3 linked regions of the Homo sapiens genome follow. The protein of the gene in region 3 interacts with the protein of the main gene of each other region in a biochemical or structural test. Each region holds a gene or a part of one and is shown on either strand. Other genes may lie near its edges.

What was found. The genes of interacting proteins can lie anywhere in the genome.
Region 1: the proteins of KLF16 (region 3) and NFIB form a complex in vitro, tested with the Homo sapiens proteins (one study listed by BioGRID).
Region 2: the proteins of KLF16 (region 3) and NFIA form a complex in vitro, tested with the Homo sapiens proteins (one study listed by BioGRID).

What each region holds. Positions count from the first base shown.
Region 1 is NC_000009.12:14,304,132-14,311,162, reverse strand, and holds part of NFIB (nuclear factor 1 B-type), read left to right. Parts: intron 1-3,127; exon of another isoform or gene 3,128-3,240; coding exon of another isoform or gene 3,241-3,255; intron 3,256-3,642; coding exon 3,643-4,174; intron 4,175-4,317; exon of another isoform or gene 4,318-4,411; intron 4,412-5,144; coding exon of another isoform or gene 5,145-5,185; exon of another isoform or gene 5,186-5,410; intron 5,411-7,031.
Region 2 is NC_000001.11:61,379,540-61,386,570, forward strand, and holds part of NFIA (nuclear factor 1 A-type), read left to right. Parts: intron 1-3,697; coding exon 3,698-3,826; intron 3,827-7,031.
Region 3 is NC_000019.10:1,860,575-1,868,193, reverse strand, and holds the start of KLF16 (Krueppel-like factor 16), read left to right. Parts: upstream 1-4,614; 5' UTR 4,615-4,696; coding exon 4,697-5,153; intron 5,154-7,619. UniProt on the Homo sapiens protein: Transcription factor that binds GC and GT boxes and displaces Sp1 and Sp3 from these sequences. Modulates dopaminergic transmission in the brain.

The sequences.
Region 1 (7,031 bases), on a different chromosome or scaffold from region 3:
ATAGTATGCTACAAAATCAGCATATCAATAACCAATATTTATACACCAGTATAAATCAGATATAAAGGAAAAATTAAGAACTATCATATGATTTAATATATGTTTAAAAATAATGTAAACCATTAATAATATAACTTTCAATTGGCATGATGGCATTAAATATATTTTTCTTTCGTTGCTTTTAAGTTCTTTAGGTACATTTTTTGCATGATTTGTTGTTATATAGCAATGCGCCAAGAGCACCTAGTATTTACTCTTCTACCTCTATGTTGGTCTAAATTATCCATCCCTTTCATGGAAACGGAAGAAAAATAAATATGCCTAGTGGAATTAAGACTCTTTATTTTTATATCTGAAATTGGTAACTTTGTTATTTACTTTGTCAATTTAGTTCAACTAAAGGAAGTTTTAAAAGAGAATTACTGAACATCAATGCATTTTACTAAAAATTCTGAAAGAGCAAAGTTGCCTATTACCTTTGTATACAGTTGTTTGGTTTTAAATCACTTATATGTTTTGCTTTTTTTAAAGAATTTATGATTGCTTAATGCTATTGTAATAATCCACTACTAGTTAGGATATTTGAAAACCTTAATCACCTTTTAAAAAAATATTTTTGTATCAGGACAGTTATTATGTTCCATATTCATGTCACTCATAATCTTTAAGACTCTAGTGTTACTCAGCATTAGGAAACAGTCACACTTGGGAGATGACATTTAGGCATGTTAATACAGAAATATATGCGACTTACAGCAAACCTCAATTTACAGTCATTTTTGGAGGATATGTCCCCTTGTCAAATAAGTGCTTCACTTGAATTCACATAATAGTGAAACCCTGAACGATATCAATAAGGCAAACTGGCAGCCTGAGAAAGTTTGCTACTTTTATTTCTCAAAAAAAAGAGCATGTTTTAAAACAATATTGGCAGCATTGACAGCAAAGTCAAAGGAACGTTTAAAAACTGTGTGCATTTGCTAAGAATTTTCAAATTCAACCTTCAAATTTGAATTTTGGTTGTTTAAAATAACTCATTAAAATTTTGAGCTTTCTTGTGTGATAGATTATATTTATAATCAAATATTGAAACTCAAATTTAATCAAAACTGTGTTTGATGTCTTTATAAGAAAATGAAATGTCACTGAACATAGTACTTAAGGTGTAAGTACTTACGTGTTACCACATGGCTTAATATTTATAAAATAATATTGCATTTTAAAAAGCATGGCAAGGGTAAAATGAGTGAGACAGAGCCCACCCACTCCACCTCATGTGCTCTTTACATTCTCAAGGTTTTAGTTTTGTGAGTGCATATATGTGTGTTTTTTAGTCATATCAATAAATCGTAGTAAAAGATTATAGGAAGTGAGTTTCCAAAGCACATTTAAGTCCACATTTCCTTGAGCAGGCTTTCCTTTTGCATATATTCCTAAAGGGGATAAACAAAGTTTTTGTAGTTACAGTGAAAGCTAAAAGCATGGCATCAGAAAGTGTATGGAGATAGGGAGGTCTTATCATGGGATGTGGTTGCTGTGAGCAGGGCTGCCTTCCCACACAAAGAACAGATTGTGGTTTAACTCTTTCCATGGCCTAGTTTAATGTGCTCGCATAGTAACTGAATTGTTCAAATCTCTGCTGGAAACTACTGATCGGTTTAATGATTTCCTCTATGGCATTTGGGTATGCCTCATGCTGTGATGTAATCATCAGCATTCTGTATTGTTATAAAATTTTGATTCATACTTATTCTGGTGAAGGAACACTTACAGCAATGTTAGAACACTTGATAACTACATTATTGATTGGATGGGACATGTACTCCTTCCATATCTGAAGTGCAAACAGCTAACATGTTGCAGTCTGTAGCATTAAAACTTCGAATTTCTTCTTCAAAATGTATTCATATCTATATTGGATTTTTGACACCTTCTTTGTTAAAGAGTCATTAGTTGTACTTTCATCATATTTACCTAATGGAATTAATTAGTCAGTCTGCTGTTAAATAGAATTTATTCCACGTAGTTCAGGGTGATTAACATGAGTATGTAAATTCTAACTTGGGATACAATCAGAGAGTTATTTTGTCGTTGGGCTGACAGTATAGTCAATATGATCAGAAAAGTGGTGGTGGTGGAAGTTCTCATTTGCTTCAAATCTTGGCTTATTGCGTACATGCGGTGTGCATGTACAGGACGTTAAGCTCTTTCTCTTTGAACAGTAATAGGCCTAAGCTTATAAGACAGGTTTTACCTAAATCAGGAAGTAACGAAACTGACTGCACTGGGAAGTAACTTGAAATATCTGTAGGTAAAGATTATCCACCATTCCTCACTGATCCCCTCCCTTAAAAAAAGGGCTTGGATGAAACAGGCAGGAAAAATGCAGGAGCCTAAAGGTAAACTACTTAATTCAAAAGATTGGTACTCTATAATCTATGTATCTGCAAATTCACATGCACATGCATATATGCACCCACAGTTCTAACTGATAATTCATCTACATGGCAAATGAATTGTATAGATTCCACAAAAGCAGTAACTGACCAGCAGTGTCACCCCACCACAGCATGCAGAGACACAAAGAATGTAAAGTTGGTGCCAAGTTGCCATTTTTCATTGTTCACCTCAGATTGATTTTTAAGAGGTTTAGAATAATTGCTATACTCATGTGATCGGTGAACAAATTAACGGACTCTGTGGGGCTGCATATTCTATAGGGAAGCTGATGGAAGAACATTCATGTAATTTTTGTTTTCCAGTTTGAAAACTTCTATTTAAAAATGCAAGAGTGTGTGTGAGAAAGCAGGAGAGTGCAAGTGTGTGTGTGTGTGTGTTGGGAGCTGGCGTTGGTAGTGTGGGGAGAGAATGCACTGCTCAAAGTATGGAAACCTTCTGTTCAGGACACTGATACGACGAGCTGTGTCCTTTGCCCACTTTCCCTCACTGTATACCGGTTTCTCTAGTTACCACTTTTGGAATGGTGCTGTTTCAGTGTTGGAATGTTGGACGTTTGATAAGAAAATGGATCAAGTTTAATGGCGCATGCTCTTTGTGCCACCAGCAGCCTCTTGCTGAGAGCATGCTCCAAAAGCGGGAACTGTGTGGCATTACACTGAGCATCTATATGCTTTGTGTTTCTGTGCCACAGAGAAGAGAAATGAACTGTGGCATCGCTCCTGCCTTCTGAACAGCTCTACTCCGATTAAAAAAAAAAAATCTCACTGTGTTCTTTGTAAAATGGTACTGCATAGTGTTAGTTGGTCAATCAAATATTGAAATACTATATTAGGTGCCAAGCACCTTAGTTAGTTGCCTATATTTTAAAGAATGTAGAATGCATGGCATTGGGGTGGAAACAAGGGGGATGGGGCCAGAGTGTAATACAAAATATAAACCTTATTTCCTTTATAGGAGGGAGAATTGACCTGTGAATTTTGGTGGAAAGGGGACAGCTGGGCATACTTTACTTTCTTCTTGTCCTGTTATTTTGATAATTTTAAATAAGAAAGGAATGTTATTTTCATGTATAACTTTTTGTACTGAATTGGAAACGGGTTGTGGTCTTCTTTTCTTATTTTTTGAGCTTTTAAAATTAAACTGACTATGCACATCTTTTCCTCACCCCTCTGTCTTCCACAGGATGAATTTCACCCATTCATCGAGGCACTTCTTCCACATGTCCGTGCAATTGCCTATACTTGGTTCAACCTGCAGGCTCGAAAACGCAAGTACTTTAAAAAGCATGAGAAGCGAATGTCAAAGGATGAAGAAAGAGCAGTCAAAGATGAGCTTCTCAGTGAAAAGCCTGAAATCAAACAGAAGTGGGCATCCAGGCTCCTTGCCAAACTGCGCAAAGATATTCGCCAGGAGTATCGAGAGGACTTTGTGCTCACCGTGACTGGCAAGAAGCACCCGTGCTGTGTCTTATCCAATCCCGACCAGAAGGGTAAGATTAGGAGAATCGACTGCCTGCGACAGGCAGACAAAGTCTGGCGTCTGGATCTAGTCATGGTGATCCTGTTCAAAGGCATCCCCTTGGAAAGTACCGATGGAGAGCGGCTCATGAAATCCCCACATTGCACAAACCCAGCACTTTGTGTCCAGCCACATCATATCACAGTATCAGTTAAGGAGCTTGATTTGTTTTTGGCATACTACGTGCAGGAGCAAGGTAGGAGCAGATTGTTCTTTTTTCTAGCACGGCAAACACCGCCTACAAATCTCCGTAGACAGAGTATCTGGCTTGAGTTAGATGGTCCTCAAGGCCCCTAGATATCCTCCACCCTCTCTGGGTATAGTAGGGTGTCCGCTTTCACTCACATGTCCGCTGCCATGTGCGAGCCATGTAAATAGACACAGAGCTTTCGTACCTGGATAGGCTTGGATATTTAAGAAAGACCACAAAGAGGTGCGTTTTCAAGTATCTTTAAAATAATACTGTTTTTCAAAGACATAGGGTAGTCTAACAAATATAGTTCATTACACTATACTTTCTGTCGTAGGCTACATTTTTGCATCTAATCTAGTAATCTTTTCCTGATTTGAAAATATAACTTTATTTATGAATAGCCAAACCATCCTAGATAATTTTTGTATTAACCTTATTAATTAATGAGGTAGAGGGACTTTGTTTATGAACTTAGTGGTATCGCACTGAAAATAGAACTAATGTTTACTATTACAAAATGCTTAAGATAGATAATATCAAAAGTATATCTTACGTAGACCTAGATTTACTTAATTTTAATATTTCTATCATCACTTTTGATTGTGCAATATTCACTGTCGATTAAATGGAATTGAGTTATTATTTAAATTATTTATAGTATGTTCCCAGAGTTACTTGGGAACACTTAATAATGTTAGTTTACTTGTATGTAAATTCATAAAACTTACCGAGGAGGAAAGTCGCAGCGCTGCTTACAGAACAAAAAACAGAAAGTGGACTGGTTACACTGGTTTAAGATAAATCTTAAAAAGAATACAGAAACTGCATACCATACCTATTATTTAAAATACCTGAGAAGGAGAATGGTATACATTTTACCTAAATAATTAAAAAAGATGATGTTATTACTGAATATTTGAGTTAATGAAATGTTTATTATTTTTATTTTTCTTAATATATTTTCCTTAAGTAGGTAAGAATTTCTTTTCTTCAAATAAATGCATCAAGATATAGATGTCCTTGCATTACCAACAATCCATAGTAAAACAATCATTTTACAAAGCCGCATACCAAAAGTAGACTGAAGTTTGAGCTGTCACAGATGGTAGGTCATTTCCAAACTTGGCCTGGTGGGAGGAAAAATGGCCTGCAGATAGCCAGGTGACAGACTGTTACCTGAGGTTTGTTATATAAATGTGGGACTTAATAAACTGCTATGAGCTTTATTATTCAAAAAAATCAAAATTACTTTTTTGACTCTGAATTCTAGGCCCTCACTATGTGCTTTTTGTCTTGATTTTCTTGTAGCTTTGGAGATAGGCTTAAGTGTCATTTTAGAATTTTTAGTCTGATTTTAAATAATGGTGTTGGACATTGCACTTTTAGAAATATTACCTTTTCCTGAAAAAATGAAACATTGCATTTAATATTTCCATGCATTTAAGAATTACAGTCCAAATAATGATGGTTTGGGGAAAATAATATTTTTGTCCCATGTGTCCTAAAATAAAACTCAGTAACACATGACACTTATTTGATTGACAGATGTCTAGGAGGTGACACTTTAAGGTGGGCTGTATATATGTGTTGGATTGACTATAAATGTGTTGTAACTGTGTTGTGAAAGTCAAGGATGGAAGTAAAGTTTCAAAAAGTGGGTCATGTAACTTTTTAGTGCAGGGAGGGAAGATTTGCAACCACTTCACTACTGCTCACATTTTAAGTTGCTTGAAGGCTAGGTTTTGAGGTGTGCCTGCCTGCATGCACATTTACTCCTGGGGAAGGCAGCCAGCTCTCTTAGTTTTGATGAACTGACAATAAAGATTTGTAGAGATAGATTGAAAAAAGAAAAAAAACGCATAAATGCCTTCCATGTTGCACCACTGGTCATGATAACTATAAAGTTTTAAGCAACTCTTAAGAGACCATGGTTTTAGATAAAACATTGATTTTGTTGTTGGTTCAACAATCTCTATTGTAAGAACTTTTCATTATTTTATCTTGTGTATATAACTTGTATCCTCTGCTACCTGCCAGTGCATCATCTTCTCTTAACATCTGTTGGTTCTTCCTTTGAAAAACTCACGTCAGGATGCTTTTGTGTTTTCCCCTTTTCAAAATTTATATATTCTTCTTTGTCAAGTGTAGGTTAATTATGTCATTTTATAGTGCAATTGATTAAAGAAGGCAGATTTTAAAAGATAATTCTCCGGTCAGTTAGAGGGCTGCATATCGCGAGTGATGACTTTTTATTTGTCTTCTAAGTACATGATAACTCACCTAAGTCTGTTTTATAAATCAGGAAAAGAAGTATAAAGGAAAACACGAAAGAAAAATCAGAAAAGAGAAATGTAATGTTTGCAGCAGAAAGAGCAACAAAATTACGTTTCCCCCTTTTTCTCTCTCCCCACTTCTAAATGACTGGGAGAAAAACATGAGAAAGAACAGAGAGAATGCCAAAGATGGTTGCCACTGGCACCAGGATTGGCATCAGACCCTCTTTGTTTAGCTCAGGATGCCTGTGATTTGTTAGTTGGCATCCGCATTGCAGTGTGGAGTGATGTTACAATATATTGACAATTTCCAGATCTAGAAATGTCAATAGTCCTCTTGGTTATTTATACAAGATCACACACTGCATCTCTTCTGGAAGACGAAATAAAGACCAACATGTACTAAAGTTTCATTGTTGACCAACTTCCTATGCTTTTCTTTTTTCCCTCTTTCTCTTTTGGTTCAACCCACACTTTTTTTCCTTCTTCATGCCCAGCAGCCTCATCTTTCTGAAATGTGGGAAGAGTTACCAGAGCTTTGACACAAGCTATAGTGCTACATCTGCATCTGATATGGTTTGGGAAAA
Region 2 (7,031 bases), on a different chromosome or scaffold from region 3:
TGGGACTACAGGCACATGTCACCATGCCCAGCTAAGTTTTGTATTTTTAGTAGAGATGCGGTTTCACCATGTTGGCCAGGATGGTCTCGATCTCTTGACCTTGTGATCTGCCCACCTCAGCCTCCCAAAGTGCTGGGATTACAGGCATGAGCCACCGTGCCTGGCCTCAGCTAACTTTTAAAAATTAATTTTTTGTAGAGATAAGGTCTCACTATATTGTCCAGGCTGCTCTCGAACTCCTGGCCTGAAGCAATCCTCCTGTCTCAGCCTCCCACAGTGCTGAGATTATAGACATGAGCCACCAGCCCAGCCTGACTACCACAAATACCAATGATGAATTTGAAGGAATCTTTGTGAATAGTGCATTTGACCTGTATTTTCAAGGTTTTCTTGTTGAACTTTGCACTTATAAGTGCCTCCAGAGATGAAAGCCACTACATGACTAGAATCCCATATATGTTTGCCCTTGTCTACTGAACACAATTTGGAATGACTCATATAGCTTAGAAAAAAATGGCAGACTAGAGGGAAATTGAAAATTCAAAAATTCTGGATGTTTAGAAAACCAGTGACAAGCCACAGGCCTTCTTGACATGTTTCTCCAATTCTATTTACTCTCATTGGGTTTTTTTATACCAATCAAAAGGATGAAATGCCCCATTGAAACAAAACATTATGCTAGATTTCTGCTTCTCATTCTACAAAAGTCTTTATTTTTCTGCATTGAACTTTGAAGTAACATTTCATTTCCTCCAGAAAAAGAGTAGGATTACTTCATCCGTAGTCTTTTTTTAAAAATCTGGTACTTCTAGAAAATACATTGAAATTAAAGTTTTAATGCATTGAAAGAAAGCCAATCAGTCATTAATCCATACAGTAATTTTGTAACAGTTGTGCATAAATAATTGGCAAAAGAGATTTTAAAAAGGAGTTTATTTTTAAAGTAATGTACAGAACCAAATTTGATTTCAAAAATAAAAGCCAACATTAATGTTTTCTAGCTTTTAACAGAAAGCAGTTTACTAGCATTTTGGAATTTCATCTGGTCAATTAAATATACAAAACAAATTAACCAAAACATACATTATGTATGTAGAGAAAATATTAAAGTATATAATAAGGAAATGTGCTCAATACGAACTCTTTAAAAATTGAAAACACAAAGTAATTTTGAGATTCATGACAGCCTTAGGGTTCATATTACTTGACTGTGATAAATTTAGAAGATTATACATAGTTTGGCTGGTTGTTCCTGCATGCTGACGGTATTTCTTCCGTCTTTAACCCTTGCAAAGAAGATTTAAATTTTGCTATTTTTGAACTTGTTTACCAACTTGGTCATTCTTGATACTTGTTATTGCCCAAATTTTACTTGTAATTCCTTTTAGAAGCATAAATAGTGGATTTCAATCATGTCAATATTTCTGCAGTATTTAGAATGGCATGAATTAGAAAACATGAATTTTTCAAAGAAATCATAACTTTTTCTTGAGTCCAGCCATTTGCTATCATCAATAAGATTAGTTAGGATACTGGATTTCATCAGTGATTCCATTATCTGAAAAAAAAAAAAAAATCTGCCACCTTTAAAGTTTTGATTTTTGTTTTAATTATCTGTTCTGCTTCTGTTTTATGACATGTAGTTCAGGCATTGGACTAAATTTAAATCAGTGGAATGGTTGGCAGCCTATAAATTGGTCTACACAAAAAGGTTTAAATGAGTTGGGAGATTTGTTTACATTTTGCTAGCTTTTTATTTCTTTCATTTTTTTTATTTGAAATCTCCTCCTTAGTGGAATTACATGATGATAACCTTAGGTTAGGTTATCTTACAGTGAATGTTCACCCAAAATCTCAGTGCATCCTACATTAGAACTTTGGTATGGTGTGACTGGTTACTGATTCAGCAAGCAACAAATATAACTAAAGTCACTTAATTACTTCATTTTTAATTCAAATCACATGGATGTTGATCTAGAAAGGATCTGATTCAAATTGTCAAATTAGTATGAAATCACATACCACTCTATGTTGTACTTATATCTGACTATGCAAATGTGTTTACCAATTTTCAATTTTTCTTTCTTGGGGTGAAAATTCTAAGCTTTGCTATGTTTAAGCATCTATTCATGAAGCTACAGATAAAGCTGAGACCTGCACAAGTAGTTTAAATATCTTTTCAGACCATTTGGGTGTTTCAGACCCTTGGAGGTCTTGGACATAGAGGGGAACAAAGCAGACAAGGACTCTGTCCTTATACAGTCTGAGTCACACTCAAAGGTCATGTTGTAGAATTGCATTAAGGAAATCTGTGATCAGAAATAACAGGGACATATTTAGATACACGCAAAACTAGCTAAATTTCTGGAAAGATCTATACCTATAAAGTGCTTGGCACAGTACATGGTACTCCATAACAGTTACATGTTAATATCATTATGATTTTTATTACTTTTCCAGTTCATCCAAATAATTCTCTGGTCATGGGCAGAACACAGCACATGTAAACATGTATAAGTAAAATGGAATTTGGTTCTTTTAACATCAGTGCAGACCAGTTTTGTGCTACAACCTTAAGAGAGCCCAAATTTGTCCCCTGATGCGGAGACTAGGAGTCATTTCTTTTATTTTTATATCCAAATTTTCATTGTTTTAATTGGCACCCTATCAAACTGATAGATGCCTCCAGTTGGGTATGTCAGCGTGGTTGCCGAGAACATTACAAATCCAGTAATTACAAGGAACTGTTTCTCCATTATTTTCTTCCCAAAGCATTTTCTATGCTGGAAATGCTGTGAAAACTTTAGACACAATAATAAAAGTACTATTTTTAAAAACAAGCTTTTATTGTATTAACATGAAAGCAATATATGTTCATCATAGAAAAGACAGGTAAGCAAAACAAAGGCAATGAAAATCACCCAAATTCAATACAGAGAGAGAACTACCATTATAGTTTATGCATATTGCCTTCCAGTTCTTTCTCTGTGCATAGAAATAGCCTTTTCAATGGTGTCATAGTATAACATCCTATTTTGTAATTGCCTTTTTCAATTAACATTATATTATAAATGTTTTGCCACATCATTACTCTTTTACAGTATTGCTTACATTGGTTATACCATACTTATTTAACCAGTCCCCAATTGTAGGGCATTTAAGATTTTTTTACTTTTCTTTTTTCTTTTTTTCTATTCTAAAGAATTCATTGAATGAACAACTAAGTTGCCATTGTTGAGGGTATTCTTATGTTAAAACAGCCAAATTATTTAAAATATGGAGAAAGTGATTTGGTGTCAAAGCAAGGTAACCAACAAGATGAAACGATTGCATGTGAAGTCTTCATAAGCATACATGGTTTCCTTTTTGGGAGTCACAGAGGTCACAGACACAAGCAGCAACTTTTAGGAAACACTGGAAAAGTTGAACCCTGTATTATTATTGAAGACCAATAACCCAAAAATGGACTGTGATTAATTAGAATAAATTGAAATCAAATACAGACCGACTTATCAGGGGACTATTCTGTCACCTCTTTGTTTCTGTGACAAATGCAAAGCAATTCACAACATCTTTTTCATTCACAGGTGGATTTCTCTTTTTGTTTGTTTTTAATTCTTTAAATGTTATCTTTTAGGTTGCACAAATCATTGTTCCATGAATTAAAGTGTACTTACCAGTTGATCCTTCTTGCCAGGAATGCCATCTCCAACCACACTGAAGAAGTCGGAGAAGTCTGGTTTCAGCAGCCCCTCCCCTTCACAGACCTCCTCCCTGGGAACGGCGTTCACACAGCATCACCGACCTGTCATTACAGGACCCAGAGGTGAGCTGCTCCACAGGCACCCTTGGTTGTGCTTATATCATGGCCTTTGGACCCAAGTAGCAAAATGAGAAACAATGAGGACTCCCCCTGAACACTCGTGAGGCAGTGAGTGTTCCAATTTCTTACCCTTGGGGGCAGCCTTGGAATTTTAGAGACCAAAGAGATTTGGCATCACATTTTTTGTCCTTTCCTAAGGCAAAAAGAGACCAAATCTGTTTTTTGTTGGCCAGTGAGATTTTTGCAGAAAGATGGGAAGTAACTTGAATTGAACCAAAATCAAATCTGTTCTACAAGTTGTGTGTGTGTGTGTGTGAGAGAGAGAGACAGAATGTGTGTGTGTGTGCGCACATGCGCGTGCACACATGCATGCATTGGGTGAGTATATTTCCATGTGGTCAATTACCTGTTTTCAAGTAGTAGCTTTTTCTCATCCCTGCTGACTCTCTTTCCATAAAACCTGATTTCAATATGTGGCATTTTGTGTTGAGGTTGTTTGCATCAGGGTGTTGACGAGCAGTCTTCATTCACTCCTTTTGAAGTGGTAGATAGTTTGTCTGGTTTTCATTGCAATGTTTTCATTATTTTTGTCTCATATGCTTTTAAGTTTATTATTAAAATGTGTCCACGAGAAATATGATTTGTATTTCGCATTAAAGACAAGCCTTAAGCCTCAAGAGAATGTCAGCAAATCACTTAACTTGATCTTATTGCAAGATAAAAATATTTATTATTTTGTTTATGAAACTCCCACAGTAGAAGTATGAATAATTGTAGCCATGTTTGCTTTCCTTTATCAGATTTTCTTTTAGGTAGGTCTGTGACCTACCAGCTGGTTTCATAAAACATCCTAGAAAATTATGATCTCTTGTCTGCTTTGACATATACCTGGGGAAACTGATGTTTCTTGCATTAATCTCAATGTTAGCCCCACCAATCTGAATCCCTTTATGAATGTGCTCTGTGTGCATCTCAGGGAAATGTGGCAGGTAAGAGGGCTGTCCGGTGCACACATGGGAGTCATATTGAAGAAAGTAAGCATTTTGACCACTGTGGGAATGAAACTTACTTGTTTCATCTTTAAACATCTTGTGATCATTGGTAGAACTTTCTCAAGATCCCTTCTTTCATTTGTGTATTATGTGTGGTATAATCAGAGAGGCTTACTATCGATATATAATTTGAAAACCTGCATCAGAATTAGATTATAAGGTCCCAGAATGAGGCTTATTAAATAGTATTAAGATATTATCCTCATAGTTAACACTCATTGAGCATATAAACTGTAGTGGGGGATCAGAGATATGAAGCCCTTTTAGTCAGAATATTTATGGCCTGAAGGAGATGAGGCATGTGTTGTTTTTCATCTGTTTGGGGTCAAGTTAACATATTCTAAATGCTAACTGAATGGTAAAAGTTCCTGCAGGAGCTCAGTATTGGGGGGACCGTGGAGGTTCATTCACTCTTTAAACAAGGATTTACTGAGTGCCTCTATAGACACTGGGACCAGTGGTTCCTGTCCTCATAGAGCATGTTATCTACTGCAGAAGAGAGGCACACAAGGAAATAAGCAAGTAAAAGATGATGGGCCGGGCACAGTGGCTCACGCCTGTAATCCTAGCACTTTCTGAGGCCAAGGCGGGCAGATCACTTGAGCTCAGGAATTCAAGATCAGCCTGGCCAACATGGTGAAACCCCATCTCTACTAAAAATACAAAAAAAAATTAGCCAGGTGTGGTGGCACATGCCTGTAAATCCCAGCTACCTGTGAGGCTGAGGCAGGAGAATCACTTGAACCCAGGAGGCAGAGGCTGCAGTGAGCCAAGATGGTGCCACTGCACTCCAGCCTGGGCAACAGAGCAAGACTCCATCTCAAAAAAAAAAGAGACTTCAAAGTATAAATAACATTGAAGTCAAATCTTAAAAGATGCTTAGATAAATGGAGGGCCATCCTAAGCAAAGGAAAGATTTGTGGTGTAGTAAGTTAGTAAGAACTGAGAAGAACAGTATGCCAGCAATCAGGAGAGCTGGGTAGGCTCCCTCTTTTCCTTCCCACTCACCTTCTGGGTTTTTTAATGTCCTCATCAATATAGTGGGTACAATACTAATAATGACCATTTCCTCCCAATCTTGTATTCTTATACAGAAACAACAATAAAACAGTATTTGTGGAGATTCCATGAAGAGCATAATGCAATCTGTATATATTATCATTAGTCAGTAAATATTAAGAGTGTCTAATGTGTGTCTTGCCTTAAAACTGTAGTTCTAGAAATTACTGTCATGGGCACTTCCCTATGGGTACAGGTTGAGAGCTTGTTCATGCTAGATGACTAAGCACATTTTCTAAAATGACCCACGCTGGGTTGAACCAGAGTGGACCTCCTTAGCTCACAGCATAACAAGTTGCAATCTATTCATATTCATTCATAAAACTGTGTTTGAGGAAAAGAGAAAGATGCCTAGTGTAAGAATTATGGAATACCAAAGATTCTTTGTTTTCACCAGAATTCAAGATGGCTCCCAGCATCCTCGGCTCTCCTTTCTGGAAAGTCTACTCAGGTACCCGTTCTTACCGTGTCCCACCCCGCTTAGTGGTCTGGTGAAGGGAATTGGAGTAGTTGAGATGAAACTTCAGTTGCCTCTTTGTGGTAAGAATCATAAGAATTGAGATAGGCTAACGTAAGACATTTTTCTGGCTAAGACATTTTTAAAAGGTTGGAATTCAGCCTCATTATTTATTTGCTGTGGGTACTGTAATTTCCTTCATTTCTCTCTGAACTAGTTGGAAAGCTAATGCTTGGAATGATACCACATTTGGGAGTAAGACGTGGTGTTTTAGGAAGATGAGGCCAAAATTGAGGAGGAAGAGTATAGCTGCAAGAGTCAGTGTGGAATCGATGTCACATGTGCGCATAAAGGAGATTTCAACCTCTGACACTCCTTGTATTGGGCAAAGTTGCCACAACCCAAAATAGTAAATTATTAGATAATCCAGAGAATCAAACTTTAAAAGGATCTTGAAGAAAAGAAAAGAATGTCCTTTATCAGGTCCCCAGGGCATGGGGCAGGGATCACGGAGGCCATTGACTGCTCTCTGGTTAGCACTAGGTTGTGAGGCTTCTGCTGCCTTCCCTAGCATTTATCACGGGAATGCTTCAACTAGACTAGCACCAGTTAGTAAGCAATAACTGTCCAACACACATCC
Region 3 (7,619 bases):
AGTTTTATTTAGAAGATGAATTTTCATACAGAAAAGCCTAAAAATGAAAGGACAAATGGCCCATCATTGCATTGCTTAGATGCCTGTTGACATTCAGAGGCATGTAGTAAATACACATGGTAAAAAAAAATGTTTGAGTACTACAGAAAAGTACTATTAAAACTATCACAAAGCAAAGACCCGACTGTCTTAAATCAAGAAGATATGGCAGTTCCAGTGCATGCGCGCACGCACACACACACACACACACACACACACACACACACGTCCTTACATATTACCCCCTCTTCTGCTGCATCTTTGTTATTTACTATTGTTTTTATTTATTTGAGAGGGAGTCTCACTGTCACTCAGGCTGGAGTGCAGTAGTACAATCTTGGCTCACTGTAACCTCCACCTCTCCAGTTCAAGCAATTCTCCTGCCTCAGCCTCCCGAGTAGCTGGGATTACAGGCGGCCCCCCACCACACCTGGCTAATTTTTGTACTGTTCGTAGAGACAGGGTTTCATCATGTCGACCAGGCTGTTCTTGAACTCCTGACCTCAGGTGATACATCTGCCTTGGCCTCCCAAAGTGCTGAGATTACAGGCATCAGCCACCACACCCAGACAATCTATCACTATTTTTAGAGACAGGATCTCGCTCTGTTGCCCAGGCTGGGGTGTATCACAGCTCTCTGCAGCCTTGACCTCGGGGCCGCAAGCAATCCTCCCGCCTCGGCCTCCCGAAGAGCTGGGACCACAGGCGTGCACTACCATGCCTGGGTAAGTTTTGAATTTGTTTTTTATGCAGACAGGGGTCTCACTATATTGCCCAGGCTGGTCTTGAACTCCTGGGCTCAAGCAGTCCTCCCATCTCAGCCCCCTAAAGTGTTGGGGTTACAGGCGTGAGTCACTGCACCCGGCCCTGCAGCCTTGTTTTTGGCCCTCACCTACCTTGGGGTATCCATGTTGTGGGTGCACCCCCGGTTATGTGACCTCTGCCCTCATCTGTCCTCTGGGAGACTGTGTTCTTTGCCCTCTATGAGGCAAGGCCCCAGTTCCTGGCTCCGTGGCCCCTCTGAGAGTCCCGTTGTGTTCTTCCTGCCCTGCTAGAGACCCACTCCCAGCAACACCTGGGTGCTGTCTGTCCCCTGCTGAGCTTTGCTCCATAGCCCTCAGGCTTGGGAGGTCCATCTTTGGGGCTGGGAGGAGCTGTCCCCCTGATCCTCTTGGGCGCTGTCAGGGAAGGGTAGAGGTGAGCCCCCATTTATAGGTGAGGAACAGGTTTGAAGAAAGAAGGGGCTGAGTTATGGATGCCCCAAAGTGTCTGCTGCCTCTTAGCTGTGAGCAGGAGCCGGCTGTTCTCGGTCCTCTCCCAGTCTTGATTTTTTCATCTGTAGAATGGGAATGACAACTCCTTTTTTTTTTTTTTTTTTTGAGACAGGGTCCCACTCTGTCACCCAGGCTGGAGTGCAGTGGTGCAGTCACAGCTCACTGCAGCCTTGACCTCCTGGGCTCAAGCGACCCTTCCACCTTAGCCTCCTGAGTAGCTGGGACTACAGGTGTGAGGCCACTGCGCCCGCTAATTTTTTTTTTTTTTGAGACAGTTTCTCTCTTGTCACCCAGGCTGGAGTGCAGTGGCACGATCTCGGCTCACTGCAACCTCCGCCTCCTGGGTTCAAGCGATTCTCCTACCCCAGCCTCCTGAGTAGCTGGGATTACAGGCATGCGCCACCAGGCCCGGCTAATTTTTTTTGTATTTTTAGTAGAGACGGGGTTTCTTCATATTGGTCAGGCTGGTCTCGAACTCTCGACCTCAGGTCATCCGCCTGCCTCGGCCTCCCAAAGTGCTGGGATTACAGGCGTGAGCCACCATGACTGGCCTCCAGCTAATTTTTTTTTTTGAGATGGAGTTTTTGCTCTTGTCGCCCAGGTTGAAGTACAATGTTCGATCTCAACTCACTGCAACCTCCACCTCCCAGATTCAAGCGATTCTCCTGCCTCAGCCTTCTGAGTAGCTGGGATTACAGGTGCCCACCACCTGGCCCGGCTAATTTTTTCTTGTATTTTTAGTAGAGACGGGATTTCACCACATTGGCCAGGCTAGTCTCGAACTCCTGACCTCAGGTGATCTGCCAGCCTTGGCCTCCCAAAGTGCTGGGATTACAGGCGTGAGCCACTGCACCCGGCCTGCAGCTCATTTTTTAATGTGGAGAGTTGGGGGTTTCATTACGTTGCCCCGGCTGGTCTTGAACTGATAGCTTCAAGTGATCCTCCTACCCTGGTCTCTCAAAGTGCTGGCATTCCAGGCGTGAGCCACCGCACCCGGTGGAGAATTTACAGGGTCATAGAGAGTAAGGAAGAGAGGACAGAGCCCTGTGCCGGGCGCTGCTGGAGGTTTGTCTGTGTTCACCGCAGGGGTCATGGGTTGCCTGAGTGTTCCTGGGGCTTAGGGGTGTGAATAGAAGCCTCATGGGTGGGGTGTGGGCTGTGTGCCCTCACCTGGGGTCTCCTGCCTGTGGAGTGGCTGGCATGACCTGCAGATGAGGCCACTCACTTGAAACCCTGATAATGGCTGGAGTGGGCAGACAATGGAGTCTCACAGTGAAGGTCCTGCCTGGGGCCATGTGGCCCACCCCTGGAGGCTGCTCACCCCTGCCCCCCATCGTTAGCCTCCCAGTTACAACTGTAAGCCCCTTGAGGGCAGGGCTGGTTGGTTCTGCTCTAAGCCCAGGAAACATCAGTGGAAGACGCATGGTTGGGTGTGGACCCTGAGGCCTCAAGACACACCTGTCCACAAGCCAATGCGGGGTTCCAGGACCCTGGGGGCTGCTGGGATGGTGGGGACCTGGGGGACCTGCCCAAGTGGCCCATCGTCCTAGAAGTTCAAAGACAACAGAGGCCCAGCAGGAGCAGGAACGCCGACCCCCAGCGCCCACCGAATGGTAGGGGTGCAGAGAGGGCTCTGGAGCCCAGGCCTAGGAGAGGGGCAAGTGTGTGCAGGGCACCCTGTACCCTCCCACACTTCGCTGAACCTCCTCTCTCTCGGCTCCGCTCTGTCCAGCCACGTAGAGTGGGCTTACTGGGGCCCAGGGAGGGCTCAGCTGGCTTAACCAAGCATGGTTGAGCCCAGGCGCAGTGCGGGCGACCCAGGGAACAGTGGTCAGCCTCAGGGCGTCAGCTGGGGTTGCAGGTGGGCGGGGGATGGGGCTAGAGAAGCCCCGAATCGGGTCAGGGCCTCTGTCCATGCCCAACCCAGAGCAGGAGGTCGCCGCAGGCCAAAGCAGCTCCGCCCCCTGGAGGCAGCTCCGGCCACTGCGCAGTCCCCGCCGCCCCGCCGGAGCTGGGAAGGGGCGGGAGCGCGGTCGCGACCGAGGGGGGCCGCCCAGTTTCTGTGCCCCCGCCGCCTTGGGCCTGCGAACTGGGCCATCCGCGTCCCTGGTGTCCCCCCTAATATTTAACAAGTTGGCCTGGACGTCCTCGCGGCCGGGAGGCCCGAATACCTGGCCTCAGTTTTCCCGTCCGAACCCCAAGAATCGATGCCTGGGAATGGAAAGAGAAGCCCCGGACCCCGGTGTCCCAGCAGGGCGGGGAACCTCTGACCCGCTCAGGCGCCCCCAGCCCAGCCCAGCCCTTTGCGTTCGGCCCCCTCTTCCCGTCCCCCTATCCCGACCCTCTGGGACCCAACCGGCCCTCCCCACCCCCAGTGGGGCGCGCTCTAGTAGCTCCGGAACTGGGTGCAAAAAGAGGAACGAACGCAGCCTTGCCCCACCCTCCCGGGCCCCGCCGCGGGCGCGGGATACCGGGTGTCTCGGCCGGGAGGCTCCGAGGGGCTCTGTGAGCGGCGAGGGGGAACCCCAGAGAAGAGGACGAGCAGATGCCTGAGTGCGGGGTCAAAGCAGGGCCCCAGGCCGGGAGAAGAGGGGGGAAGGGTCGCGCACGTGGCCTGGGGGCGGGGCCGGCCGCTTCCGCACCCCTCCAACCCCGGCCACGTGGGGATCGGAGCCCTCCTCCATCGCGAACGGGGGCGCGCCCGGGGCCAGGAGGGAAGCATCCGGGGAGGGGGCGGGCTCCCGCCGGCCGCGCGCCCCGGCGTGGGGTGGGCGCGCCAGCGAGGAGGCGGGGCGCGCTCTGGGAGGGAGGGGCGTGCCGGGATGGGGCGGGGCGCGCTCTCGGAAGGAGGGGCGTGCCGGAGAGGGGGCGGGGTCCTCGGCCTCCCGCCCCGGCTTGAGGGGGTGGTGCTCCGGGAAAGGGTACGGGGGCGCGCGCTGGAGTGGGGCGCGCCGGGAGGGGGCGGGGCTCCCGGCCTTGCACCCTAGCGCGGAGAAGGCGCGCTCCGGGCCTAAGACGCTAGGCGCTGGCGGAGGCCGGAGTGGGCGCGCCGGGGGGCGGGTTCCTCCGGCCCGAGCCCCGCCCCCGGCGGCCGCGCGCGGCTCGGAGAGTGGTGGAGGGCGCGCCGGGCGGGGGGCGTGGCTGCGGCGCCCCGAGGGGGCGTCCTCCGGGCGGGGCGGGCTGTGGCCGCCCCCGCGGGCTCCGGTGCGTCAGGACGCGTCAGGCGGGGCGGGGCAGGCCGAGCGCGGGCGTCGGCGGCGGCGCGCGCCGGGCCTCCTCCTCCTCCTCCTCCGCCTCCCGCACTCGAGCAGCCGCCGCCGGCCGGACGGACGCCGCTCCCGCCGCCTCCGCTCCGCCCGCCGCGCCGCGCGCCCTTGCTCGGCATGTCGGCGGCCGTGGCGTGCGTGGATTACTTCGCCGCCGACGTGCTCATGGCCATCTCTTCGGGCGCCGTGGTGCACCGCGGGCGGCCCGGCCCCGAGGGCGCGGGCCCCGCCGCCGGCCTGGATGTGCGCGCGGCGCGCCGCGAGGCCGCCTCACCCGGGACCCCGGGGCCACCCCCGCCGCCCCCCGCCGCTTCTGGCCCGGGCCCCGGCGCCGCCGCGGCGCCCCACCTGCTGGCCGCCAGCATCCTGGCCGACCTGCGCGGCGGACCCGGAGCCGCCCCGGGGGGCGCCTCGCCCGCCTCCTCCTCCTCAGCCGCCTCGTCCCCGTCCTCGGGCCGCGCCCCCGGCGCCGCGCCCTCCGCCGCCGCCAAGAGCCACCGCTGTCCCTTCCCGGACTGCGCCAAAGCCTACTACAAGTCCTCGCACCTAAAGTCGCACCTGCGGACGCACACAGGTGAGTGCAGCCGCGATCCCGGCCCTTGCGGGGGCGGCCGCCTGAGACCCCTCCCCCGCCAGGACCCCGAAACTGCGTGGCGCGTGGGGGGCGGGGAGGGGGGCGCGCCCGGGCCGCCGCCGCGCCGGCCGGCAGGGCGGGGCCTCGGTGGGTGGGGCGCGCGCGGGGGGCGTGGCGGCCACGCGGTCGGGCGGCGAGCGGATGGCCGCCCCGGCGGCAGTGGCGGGGGCTCCGGGGGCCCAGCGAGGTCTGCGGGCGGGATTGAGACTCCTGGGCAGACCACCTCTCTCCCTTTCTGGGCCTTGTTCCGTTTTTTTTTTTTTCTTTTGCGTTCTGGTCTGGGCGGTGGGCACCGTGGTTGGAGCATCCGGCTCTGGGGTTCTGGGTTCTCCCCCTCCCCCAGCCTCAGTTTCCTTATCTGTGAAAATGGAGGAGGAACCGCGTCGCCGCCGCCGGGGTGGCCGCGCGGATTCTCCCCAGAGGTCGGCAGAGCACCTGGCGTGGGGCCAGGATGGGGGGAGCCCGGCACGTTTTCTCTGCGTTCTCTGTATTTTAACGAGGGGGAGGGCGAGGCTAGGAGCGCGGGTTGGGGCCTGAGTCTGGGCGGGGGAACTTCATAGTATTGGAGGACCCTCGAGGGGCTCGGGTCCACACTGCTGTATTTCCCTGGCGTGTTTGTTCACCCCTACCTGGCGGGCGATTCGGGAAGGTGCGCGTAGTTGGAGCGCTTCGGCTACACCAACGCCCCTCCTAGCGCAGTCCCCGGGGCGGCGAGGGGAACCGGGAGCCTGGTGGGCCTGGCTGTATTTTTTCACTCCGTCCCCTCCTAGGGTTCCACTTTCTGGACTGGGAGTTTGGACTGGGCAACAGGGGACGGTGGGCCTTGATGGCCGGCCCTGGTTTGGGCATTAGAGGTGCTTGTCCCTTCCGGGGAGGGTGGGGGGCTGGGGGAAAGCTGTGCGGCTGCCCTTGGGCTTGGCATTCTGGCCTTGCCACCAAACAGAAGACCTCTACCCGATCTGGGTCTCAATTTTCTCATTTCTATCAAGAGTGCGATGCTGCCTCTATTTCATAGCCATAGCGGTGGCCGCTTTGGGCAGCTGGACACTCCAAGGAGGCTTGGTCCGTGGGCTCGGATTGTAGGGACACGTGGAGCAGCCGAAGGGAAGTGGGCCGTCCAGAGTGGTGGGGCTGAGATGAGCAGGGGCCGCGAATGCCTTGCGGAAGAATTGAGGGTCCATCTTTGGGGTATGGGGAGCCGCGCTGGGACGCCTGAGGGTGGAGAGCAGGAGGGCGGGTGGGGGCGGTGGTGTGTAGCCTGCCGGCCGCCCCCTCTCTGTTCTGCACTCTTTTCACCCCTCGCTCAGTCCCTGTCCTGGTCCCAGGGGCCTGGAGGCTCTGCCCACCTTGAGACACAGACGGGAACCGAGGGCGTCAAGACAGGACTTGGGTGGGGTCTGCGTTTTCTGCGAGGAGCCACACATCCTCGGCGGAGGGGTCCCAGGGTGTTACCTCTTTTTGAGGGCAATGGGGTCCGTGTATCTCCGCGGGGAGGGACATTGGGGGTCTGTGAAGATGGCGAGGCAGCGTTGGGAACAGAAAGGGAGGTGCCTCTCCGGGCGGTGGGCAGGGGTCCAGGAGTGCCCTGGCTTTTTGGGGGTAAGTTGGGCGATCTGAACAGACGGGGCTGAAGTGGGAGCCTGTTGGGAAAGCGACTCCCACCTGTCTACCCAGGTCATTCTTTTCTTGCCAGATGGCGTGGCCTGAGAGCTCCATTTGGGTTTTCTGAGTTTCTGGGTTAAGTGGACGGGATGGCCACCTCCCTGAGTGGCACCCAAGAGGCGCTTCCATAGGCCCCCGGGTATTGGGGCAGCGGTCCCTAAGCCAGCAGGGAGGGGAGGGATGGGTTTGGAGTCCTGGGAAGGCAGTATTGTTATCCCGGGATTGCAGTAAGAAACAGGCCTGGGGGTGCCCAGTCGGGCATCCCCAGGGGTGGATGCAGTTGTGCTGATGGCGCGCCACCGTCTACCCTGTGTGGTGGGGGAGGGCAGGGCGGATCTCCTGGCACCCTCCCCCACCCCTTGAGCCTGCTGACGTCCCATTCCAAAGCCCCCTTTACAGTAACGATTTGGGGACTGGGAGGGCAGTCCCAGGCCCAGGCACCTTGGATTCGGTTTCCAAAGGGTTTTGGATACTTGTGGCTTTCCAGGCTCCTCTTCCGGGCCTCCCCAGCCCCCAGGACCACCAAGGGGTCTGTGTAAACGGCCTCTTTTAGTGGAAGGTGGTCTGGTTTTTCAGCCCCCGGAGGAGGGAGGGAATGGCTGCCGTTAAGCTGGTTTTGGGGGACAGGAAGGCCATGCGTTTTTTTGGGAGGGAGCCCCATTGCAGGGCTGTCCCTGAATGGAGTGGAGGCCGGGAAAGATCCGCAGACGAACCCGAGTCACCGGTGGCTGCAGGGCTGTCCCG